Linked DNA regions of Homo sapiens. The protein of the gene in region 2 purifies or fractionates together with the protein of the main gene of each other region. This does not show direct contact. Each region holds a gene or a part of one and is shown on either strand. Other genes may lie near its edges.

Region 1 (7,365 bases), on a different chromosome or scaffold from region 2:
AGAGGGTATCTGGTTGTAATTCTGACTTTATTGCAGAATCAAACTGTATTATGGTCATTTAATCCTGAACTTCTTTGTCAACAAAACTCCAAACCCTGTGACCTCCCTCTCAGGGGACCTGGGATACTAAAGTGATAAACAGAATTTAAATGCTTCCTGAAGTGGTACAAAGATCACTGTGTTAATAATTTCCCTCCAAGCAAGCTGGTAAAGTAATAGGCTTAGGAGAGTCTTCTAGTTACAAAGTAGTGAAGTTATCGCTTTTCTCAGGCAGCTAGAAATTAATGGGAATTTTCTTGAAAGGACCATCTCTTCCAAATAATTTAGCCACCTTTAAACTTGTCTTTTTTTTATTCTGTTTTTTGAGATGGAGTCTCACTCTGTCCCCCAGGCTGGAGTGCAGTGGCATGATCTCGGCTCACTGAAACCTCTGCCTCCTGGGTTCAGGTGATTCTCCTGCCTCAGCCTCCCAGGTAGTTGGGATTACAGGCACGCGCCACCATGCCCAGCTAATTTTTTTTTTTTTAGTCGAGACGGGGTTTTTGCTATGTTGGCCAGGCTAGTCTTGAACTCCTAACCTCAAGTGATCCACCTGCCTCGGCCTCCCAAAGTGCTGGGATTACAGGCTTGAGCCACTGCGCCCAGCCTAAAATTTGGCTTTCTGCTTTTAAACTTTTATACAAAGCCTATATTTTTTGGATTATTTATTTCATGCCACATGAAGCAGGTGTGTAAGATTCCTGGTTTCTCACAAGTGAATTAACCTTTCATCTTTCTGTAACCCGCTTAGCTTGCCTCAGTTTCCCCAGCTATGAAATGAAGGGGTAGAGCAAGTGGACACTTCATCCCTTCCAGCACACTTAACAGTTTACATCCATGCAGAGGAAAACAATAAGATGTAGGAAAGAGGCTGGGTGTGGTGGCTCACACCTGTAATCCCAGCACTTTGCGAGGCCAAGGTGGGTGGATCGCTTGATCTCAGGAGTTTGAGACCAGCCTGGGCAACATGGTGAAACCCTGTTTCTACCAAAAATAACAAAAAATTAGCTGGGCATGGTGGTGCATGCCTGTGGTCCCAGCTACTTGAGAGGCTGAGCTGGGAGGATCGCTTGAGCCTGGGAGGCAGAGGTTACAGTGAACTGAAATAGCGCCACTGCACTCCAGCCTGGGCAACAGAACGAGACTGTCAAAAAAAAAAAAAAAAAAGATGTAGGAAAGAGCATGGCTTCGAAGTTGGATAGAGCTAGGTTGGAATTTTAAGCCTCAGTTTTCTCAACTGTATAATGGTGGTGGTGGTGGTGGGGATAGTGATATGTTATCTCCCGGGGTAATAAAAGCATCTACTATAGGGCTTAGCACAGAAATGCATTCTAGAAAGCTGAGGCTCCTCGGCTCCCTCGACCCCTACCCTGTCACCCAGGTCTTTCAGCCCACTCCTGTGTAGGCCTCTTCTTACTGACTGAGAGAAGGAACCCTTGGTCCTTATTCAAGTGCAGAGACAAGCTCTCTGGGAGGGGAAAGCCATCAGCCCTGTGAGTAACAGGTTCTCTGTCACTTCCTGACCTTGTCATCACTTAAGTTACTGTTTCAAGTCTGGCTGAAATGTGGCAGGAGCTAACCACAGAACTGAAAGGGTCACTATTGTGATAGATGCAGTGGGGGCTCACAACGGTCCTGTAGCAGATCCCCAGTATCTTCTCCCTGGGGATCAGGTGGGGTCACCTTTGTTCTGCAGGGAGGGGACAGGATGCTAACAGCAGTTGAGAGCTGGAAGCAACATTGAAGCCTGCCTCATTAGAGAGGAGCAAACCAAGGGACAGAGAGGAGAAGTGACTTTCCCATGATCACACAGCCAGTCAAGCAGCAGAGGTGAGAAGAGCCCCTCTGGATCCACTAGAGTTCGCACTCAAGATCCTCTGCATTTTAATGCAGATGTTATAAGTATTGATTAAGAGCTTGGAATTTGGAGATAGATGGCTGGGCATGAGGCTTCACCTCTCAGGACCTCAGTGGTCTCATCTATAAAAGTCCTATAACAAAGCCTACCCATTGTGAGGATTAAAAACCACACTGCCTGTAGAGTGCTTAACACAGAACCTAGCACATTATCAGCTTCCACAACAGGTGGTCCTAAAAGATCATTATTTGCGATTCAAGGAAACACTGCCAACCTTTTTCTATACCTACAGTTCCGATCTGAACCTCCCTCTGCGAACCCCTTATGCCACGCTGTGGCTCGTCAGTCAAGGCGCCGAGAAGCCCTGGTGCCAGGGCAGGGCGATCCTCGGGGCTCACCTGGCGACACCAGCAGCACCTTCGCCCCGCAGCACTGGAAGCAGTGCAGCAGGGACTTCGCGCGGATGTTGTAATTGAGGCACGCCATGGCACAGCCCAGCTTCACCAGCCCCAGCCACAGCCACACGTAGGCCGGCTCGTTACCCATAAGGAGCGCCACGCAGTCTCCCTGGCGCAGGCCGAGGTGGTCGTGCAGCGCCCGGGCCACTTGATTGCTGCGCCGGTCCACCTGCGCGTAGGTGAGAGTCTCGTCGCGGAAGAGCAGAAAAGGCTTGTGTGGCGTCTGGCGCGCTTTCTCCAGGAACGCCCGCAGGATGGTGCGCGCCGGCCGCCGCTTCCCGTAGCTGCGCACCCTCCGGCCCACGGCGGCCACCTTCAAGAAGTAGCCTATGTCCTGGAAGAAGTATGGGCAGCAGAGGTTCACCAGGAGCGGCAGGAACAGCAGTCCCGCCAGGACTGTGTAGATGGCGGAAAGCATGACGGCTGCGGGGCCCTCTGTCCCAGCGAGGGCAGAGGGTTCACCCCGGGCGTGCAGCGCGGCGACTGGGCGGGCTCCGGGCGGACTGGCGGGCTGCGCCGGGGCGCACGCGGCGGGACGCCGGGCTCGCGTGAGATGAAGGGGAAGACAGAGCTCCTCCGCTGCAGGTACCGCCGCGGGCTCCGGAGCAGGTGTAGTCGTATGCGCGTTGCCGGGGGTTCCGGGCAGGACTGGCCGGCTGAGCCCGCCCCCTTGTGGGGGGCAGCCACCTGCTCTCCCGGCCCTCCCACGCGGTCCTCCCGGGGCTGGGCAGGCTGCCCTGCGGCTCACCAGGAGCCTCGGCCACTTCCCAGCTCGAGTCTGGAGGTCTGGGGTCAAGTCTGGACCTCCTCGCGTTGTGACCGAAGTACTTTACCTCTAGGAGCCACGGTTTCTTTAAATGGTGATGAGACGCGCTTAGCGGACGTTGGGAATATTAAAGGAGATATTGCAGGCGTGGGGCTATTATTTGTTACCACTAATAGAATGGCTTATGGAGATGACACTGTTATTACCGATAAAGTGCCTTATAAATGTCAGACAGTCCTATTATTTATTAATAGCGGGTACCAGGTGCCACTGCCAAACCAGAATCTCATCTCTCCTTCCTGGTCCCAAGGGCTTTCCGCCTGGTCTCTCTTTGTTTCTCAGATTTGCTTCCCAGCCCGACTGCCAGGCGGTCTCCTGTAGCGAAGGCTTCAAGGTTGAACAGAAATGCCTGTGGCAGTCACGTCCAGCTCATCCCAAGCCCTGCCAGGTGAGTGAGGGCAGGACACTCTAACCTAGTCGGCCCTGCCTGGTCGGGGGAGTCCTGATTTCGTGAAGAGCAGTGCTACACCGCACCACCTGAAATCAAGCTTTGACATTATTTTACGATTTTGTTCTGTTAAGTGATCCTGCTGTTCCCTCATGTTGAAAGTTGTCAAGTGTTGTCAGCACAGTTCACACATTTAATAAGTGGCTCTGTCAGAGAATAGTATAGTACAGAGGACATTGAGTAAGTGGTATTGGCATGACTCAAAAACCATTTCTTTTAGAGGAAATGTGAACCTTTCTTTTAATTTGCCTTAGTGCTACTTCTGTACGAAGTGAATGCTCACTACTTGCCACTGAGGAGGGTCAGGATCTAAGTAGTGTTTTATTTTCATCCTCTACTGTCCTCCTGTGTTCCTCTATCTTAATTTGATACGATAAATACAGATAATGCTTATTCCTCCCAGACACGCTGCTAGGAGCTTCCCTATGTTACATTTTGGGAGCCTGAGTTATTTTATACAGGTGGCACTTTCATGCTCATTTACAGACAAGAAAGGGAAGCTTAGGTGAATTGAGACAGCCGGTAAGTAATTCGTGGGTTTTGGAAATGGTATCTGTTTGGTCCCGGGGAACCAACTCTTAGCTTATTCTTAGTAACTATACTATGCTGTCCTCCTATTCTCTAGGTTTCTGTCCATGTCCTCTTTTTTTTTCGGTGTGTGTAAAACACACAAAAATGTTTCACATTCCCTCCAGGCCACCCCCTGCCGTTTTTTAGCCTCCTTTTCGTATCCCTAGTAACTGCGCAAGCAACCTTTCCCTTTTCCTGACTTTTTCATTTCTGATCCAGCTACCTGGTTGCATCATTTCCCTGGGGATGAGCTGGGGGCCTTCATCATCCCTGAGGAGAAAGCAGTAGAATTAACCAAAGTGAGGGCCCGACAGAAACCATTCTCATGTGCACTTCTTTCATGGTGAAGCTCAGAGCCAGCCCTTCCTTTTTCATCCCAATGCCACCCTCGTCCCTTGATGGCTAATCGCTTCTGTGTAGCCACCTGCACCCCTCTTCTCTTTTCCTTGAACAGCTACTGTCTACCCAGAGTGCTAGATTACCACAAGGGTCCACTTTTTCCCCTCTTATTCTGAGGATCACTTTAACCTCAGTTACAAGTAAAAGAAAACAAGACCCAAGCTAGCTGAAGCAGAAACAGGAATTTAAGTAGTAACTGGAGAGTCCGGGGCTAAGACATCAAGGATTTTAAATGCTGACACCTGGATCTAGTTTTGCTTTCACTATTTCTCCTCTGCACCTCCTCTGTTCTCATTCAGGCTCTCTGGTTTTTGTCCAAAGATGGCTGCCAACAGCCCTTAGGGGTACATGCTTTCTGGCTCAACTTCAGAGAGAAGTACAGGAATCTTTTTCTTAGGAGTTCTCATAAAAAAAAAAATCCCTGACTGGATTATGCGCCCATTTCTGAACCAATGTCTGTGGGTCCTGGGGAAAAAGGTGCTAGTTGTTTTAAGCCAATCAGCGCTCACCCATGGGGGTGAGAGTATAATCAATTTCACCTAGGCCATTTTGTGGAACGTTTTACGGTATTATTAAAAAGTGGGGTTAGGGAGAGTAAATTTGGGGAAGTAATTTTCAAATGTCTATAATATATACCTTGGGAGTCCCAGTGATTCCAGCTTTGAGCCTGGGATCCAGCTCTTGCTTTATCACGAGGTTAATAGATGTCTTAGTCTGTTTGGGCTGCTATAACAAAATACTGTAAGCTGGGTAGTTTATAAACAACAGAAATTTATTTCTCAGACTTCTGGAGGCAAGTCTAAGATCAAGGTGCCAGCAGATGTGGTGTTTGGTGAAGGGCTACTTTCTCACAGATGGTGCCTTCTCACTGTGTACTGTTTGGTAGAAGGGACAAATTACCTCTCTGGGGCCTGTTTTATGAGGGCACTAATCCCATTCATGAGGGCTCTGCCCTATGATCAAATTACTCCCCAAAGGCTCTACCTCCTAATACCATCACATTGAGGGTTAGGATTTCAATATATGAATTTTGTAGGGGACATGAACATTAAAACCACAGCAATAGTCTTCCTGGAAATATTGCTGCCATCTTATATCTCCACTGCTCAATTATCTTTAGTGGTTCCCCATTGCTTCCTATTGTCTTCCACCAATGACATCTATAGACAGTTGTACTTGTACAGCATACTAGAACATACCTGGCCTAGAGTTGACCAGATGCCCTGGCTTCTGCCTGACTCCTTTGAAAGGTGATCGATAGCTTAGCACGTTGGCTGCCCATTCTTGGTACATCTCTTGGGAACCTCTGGTCTATAAAATGAAATTTAAACTTTATTTTCTGGCTCTTCTGAATCTCACTCAAGCTTTCACTACACTCAATTGACAAATATTTATTGAGTTTCTGCTATGAACCAAACATTATTAGGTATTAAATATTTTAAAATGGACCAAAACTTAATTCTAACTGTTCCTTTTCAAGCGCACTTTGTTTTTAGCAAGTCTGGTCTGCACACTCCTAAAAATGCCCTGCACCTTCCTCTTTCTACTGGCTTGTTCTTACCACTTTCCACCCCTGACCATCCTAACCCTGTAAATCTCAACTCTCCTTTAGGGCAGTAGTTGTTTGATTCCTGAATTTCTTAGTCCCGTGTTATATTTCGAAACCAAGTTAGGGACTCAAAATAAGTAACGACTTCTTAATTTTTCTAGTAAGAACAACCCCCTCCCCCATCACAGTATATTTGTTATTTTATAGAAGAATGACATTTTTGGCACTAAAAAAGTATACCTGAACTGTACACTTAAAAATGGTTAAAATAGTTAATTTTTATGTTATGCATATTTTACCACAATTTTAAAGACAGTAACAATAAACATATAGCCCTTTCCAAGAAAAGACGAAGACAATGTTACACCAACACATAAAAAGTACAGAAATTATCCAAGTGTGGGGGCATGCACCTGTAATTCCAGCTACTCGGGAGACTGAGGCAGGAGGATCACTTGAGGCCAGGAGTTCAAGACTGGACTGGGCAACACAGTGAGACCCCATCTCATATGAAAAACAAAACAAAATAATCTTACAAATTCTCACAAACAGATAAAAATAAAAACATTAAAAATATTTTTGAATGTAGAAAACTGCAACTTTTGTCTGGGTTTTTATACCATATAGAAATTGTTTTTATACAAGTTTGTCTATTCAGTAACATAAATTCCACAGGGAAATATGAAATAGAGCCAGATCTTGGACTTTGATGTAATTTAGGATTTTGTCAGCACTGAGATCTCAGACATGGAGATTCTCCGTCCCCATAGGCTTAGTTAAGCCTCCTCATTCCACTTCTCCCATTCTCTGACATTACTGAGCCTATTCATTTCCTCTATCAAGATTTCGGTCCCTTCCTGGCCAGTCACTTCAACGTGGCCTCCTAGACCCCTCTTTTCCTTAAACTTTCTATCCAGGTATAGATGACCTCAAATGCCCACTGTCTTCTGTCCTATTCTAGGTATTGCAGGAGAAGTTTAGGGGCAAGACAGGATTACTGGGTGTGCATACTGACACCTTCTAGCCTTGGTCAGGACGTTCATCCCTATCATCTATCTCTGCTATTTGAGAGAAGGCTTCCTATTGGCAGTCCCAGACCTTCCCTACCCCCTTCAAAGTTTCCAATCCCAATCTCAAATGTTCTTTTAAAGCAGGTGGCGTCCCTTCCTACTTTATGGAGATGAAGTAGTTCACTATTTCTCAAACTTTACAAGTCTG
Region 2 (2,807 bases):
AAGTTCAAAATTAATGCCAACATCCATGAACGACAAATAAAACTCAAAATTTAAAATCCAGACAGGATCCACCTTGCTTTGCAGGCCTCCCCTCCCTGGCTGGCTCTGGTCTGGGCCCTGCACACGTTGGGGAGGCCCAAAGACAACCCAGAGGAGCCTGGCATAACCAGCAGGGCTCAGCATGGATGGGACTGGGGTAAAATCAGGGCTTCTGAGCATGACTCCAAGAGTGTGAGGTCCCCAGAGAAAGTGGCTTAGGGAGGTAGTGGGATGTGGAGAGTGAAACACTCTTCAGAGAAAAATTAGCTAAGCAACAAGAGCTAATACTTTGTTCTGCAGAGAGAGAGAAGTCCAACTCTTGGGCTCGAGATGATGAGAAATAAAGTATTTCCCAGAAACCTCGGACCCTCACTCAACTCCTTCGAGGCTTGTCTCTGTCTGCAACCTACAGCCTGACTGTGCAGCCTGGAAAGCTTCTTTTTTTATAGAAGAACAAGAAAGAATTTTAGTGATTTGCAGTTAGTTTATTGAAATGGAAATGAATTTGAGGTTTCAACAGTTGTCTAGCAGTTTCCACATAAAAAGACAACACAAGAAAGAAAAGTGGTTTCTAGCAATCAACAGATGAGTTCTGGCCATAGTCTGTAGCCCTCTGAGCCAAACGCCTTGGGTAAAGTTAATTACTCTTCATATTACACCAAATGCTGTCGTACACTGTATGCTGGAAAACAAAAGCAGGTCACTTAGGTTTGCAAATTTCACTTATTAAATCAAATATTAAAACTTGTCTTCTTGTTTTCTTGCATTTGTCCACAAACAGCTAACTCTCAGGAGGATTTGCAGTGGAAGCAAAGCCAGCATCCCCTCTCCATTTATTCTGTTATCTAGGAGACACTTCATAATGCCAAACAGGGGCCAGGGTTGTAGGATCTCTTCCCTACCAGTGATCCATGTAATACTTTTTTTCTCCAAAAATTCTATCCTTTGAAATAACTTATCCAATAAATATGCTGCATATACTATTTGTTGAAGACCTGATCATTTGGACTGTTTCTGATACCACTTTTACAACACAGAATTATTAAAAAATCTCAGCTCAGATACAAGAATGTGATGGTTTTGAGTTGCTGCACAGGCATAAAAGGTAGAAATGTTGTAACAGTCTGAGACTCTTCACCATTACCTTTGAGGCCTATGAAATATTGGAGCTGGGCTGGGTGGGATGGCTCATGCCTGTAATCCCAGCACTTTGGGAAGCCAAGGAGGGCAGATTGCTTGACCCCAGGAGTTTAAACCAGCCTGGACAATATGACAAAATGCCATCTCTACAAAAAAAAAAATATATATATATATATGTGTATATATGTGTATATATGTATATATGTGTATATATGTGTATATATGTATATATGTGTGTATATATGTATATATGTGCATATATGTGTACATATATGCATGTATATGTGCACATATATGTGTACATATGTGTACATATGTGTGTACATATGTGTGTATATATGTGTGTGTGTATATATATGTATATATATGCCAGGTGTGTTAGTGTGCACCTGTAGTCGCAGCTACTCAGGAGGCTGAAGCGGGAGGATCACTTGAGCCCAGGAGATGGAGGCTGCAGTGAGCTGTGATTGTACCACTGCATTCCAGCCTGGGCAAAAGAGCAAGACTCTGTCTCAAAAACAAAAACAAAGACAAAAAAACGGAAACAAGAAACACTGGAGTTTTACAATATGAATGATTAATCTGAGGGGTTTTTTTGGTTTGTTTAGGATTTTTGTTTGTTTGTTTGTTTTTGAGATGGAGTCTTACTCTGTTGCCCAGGCTGGAGTGCGGTGGCACTATCTTGGCTCACTGCAATCTCTGCCTCCTGGCTTCAAGTAATTCTTCTGCCTCAGCCACCCAAGCAGCTGGAATTACAGGTGTGCGCCACCACGCCTAGCTAATTTTTGTATTTTTAGTAGAGACAGGGTTTCAGCATGTTGGCCAGGCTGGTCTTGAACTCCTGACCTCAAGTGATCTGCCCGCCTTGGCCTCCTAAAGTGCTGGGATTACAGGTATGAGGGATGCACCTGGCTAATCTGAGTTTTTAAAGAAAAAAATGATTCAACCATCCCAAATTGCAGTTAATATTTATTTTTATCCTTGAGCATTTGATATATCTTTACATTTTTTATTATGGAATGTTTTAAATAAAATTTTAGGGTATTAAATAAATTCTTAAAAAAAAAATGTAATCCCAGCACTTTGGGAGGCTGAAGCGGGCAGATCACCTGAGGTCAGGAGTTTGAGACCAGCCTGGCCAACATGGTGAAACCCCATCTCTACTTAAAATACAAAAATTAGCAGGCTGTGGTGTTGTGTGCCAGTAATTCCAGCTACTCCGAAGACTGAGGCAGGAGAATCACTTGAACTCAGGAGCCGGAGATTGTAGTGAGCCGAGATCGTGCCATTGCACTCCAGCCTGAGCAACAAGAGCTAAACTCCATCTCGAAAAAAACGAAAAACAAAAAACAAAACTCGTAACCAACACATCTTTATAAACAGACAGAAATACTCCTTGTTATAACCACTGACTTTTGTTTTAAACAATTCTAGCACTCGTGCTGTTTCATACCCATAATCTGCACTTCCCACTTCATGAGGCACTTAATTAAGTGGTGCATGACTTCCAGTCATGTATGCTAACAAATCTTGGTTGCTTGGACTTGCATTTTAAATTCTTTATTTTAGGCCGGGAGCAGTGGCTCACACCTGTAATCCCAGCACTTTGGGAGGCCGAGGCGGGCAGA

Evidence for each region.
Region 1: the proteins of SCGB2A1 (region 2) and SLC27A2 purify together in Homo sapiens (co-immunoprecipitation; 2 studies listed by BioGRID and IntAct, with this or other methods). This does not show direct contact.

Annotation. Positions count from the first base shown.
Region 1 is NC_000015.10:50,177,836-50,185,200, reverse strand, and holds the start of SLC27A2 (long-chain fatty acid transport protein 2), read right to left. Parts: upstream 3,006-7,365; 5' UTR 2,774-3,005; coding exon 2,296-2,773; intron 1-2,295. UniProt on the Homo sapiens protein: Mediates the import of long-chain fatty acids (LCFA) into the cell by facilitating their transport across cell membranes, playing an important role in hepatic fatty acid uptake.
Region 2 is NC_000011.10:62,211,640-62,214,446, reverse strand, and holds the end of SCGB2A1 (mammaglobin-B precursor), read right to left. Parts: intron 722-2,807; coding exon 677-721; 3' UTR 504-676; downstream 1-503. UniProt on the Homo sapiens protein: May bind androgens and other steroids, may also bind estramustine, a chemotherapeutic agent used for prostate cancer. May be under transcriptional regulation of steroid hormones.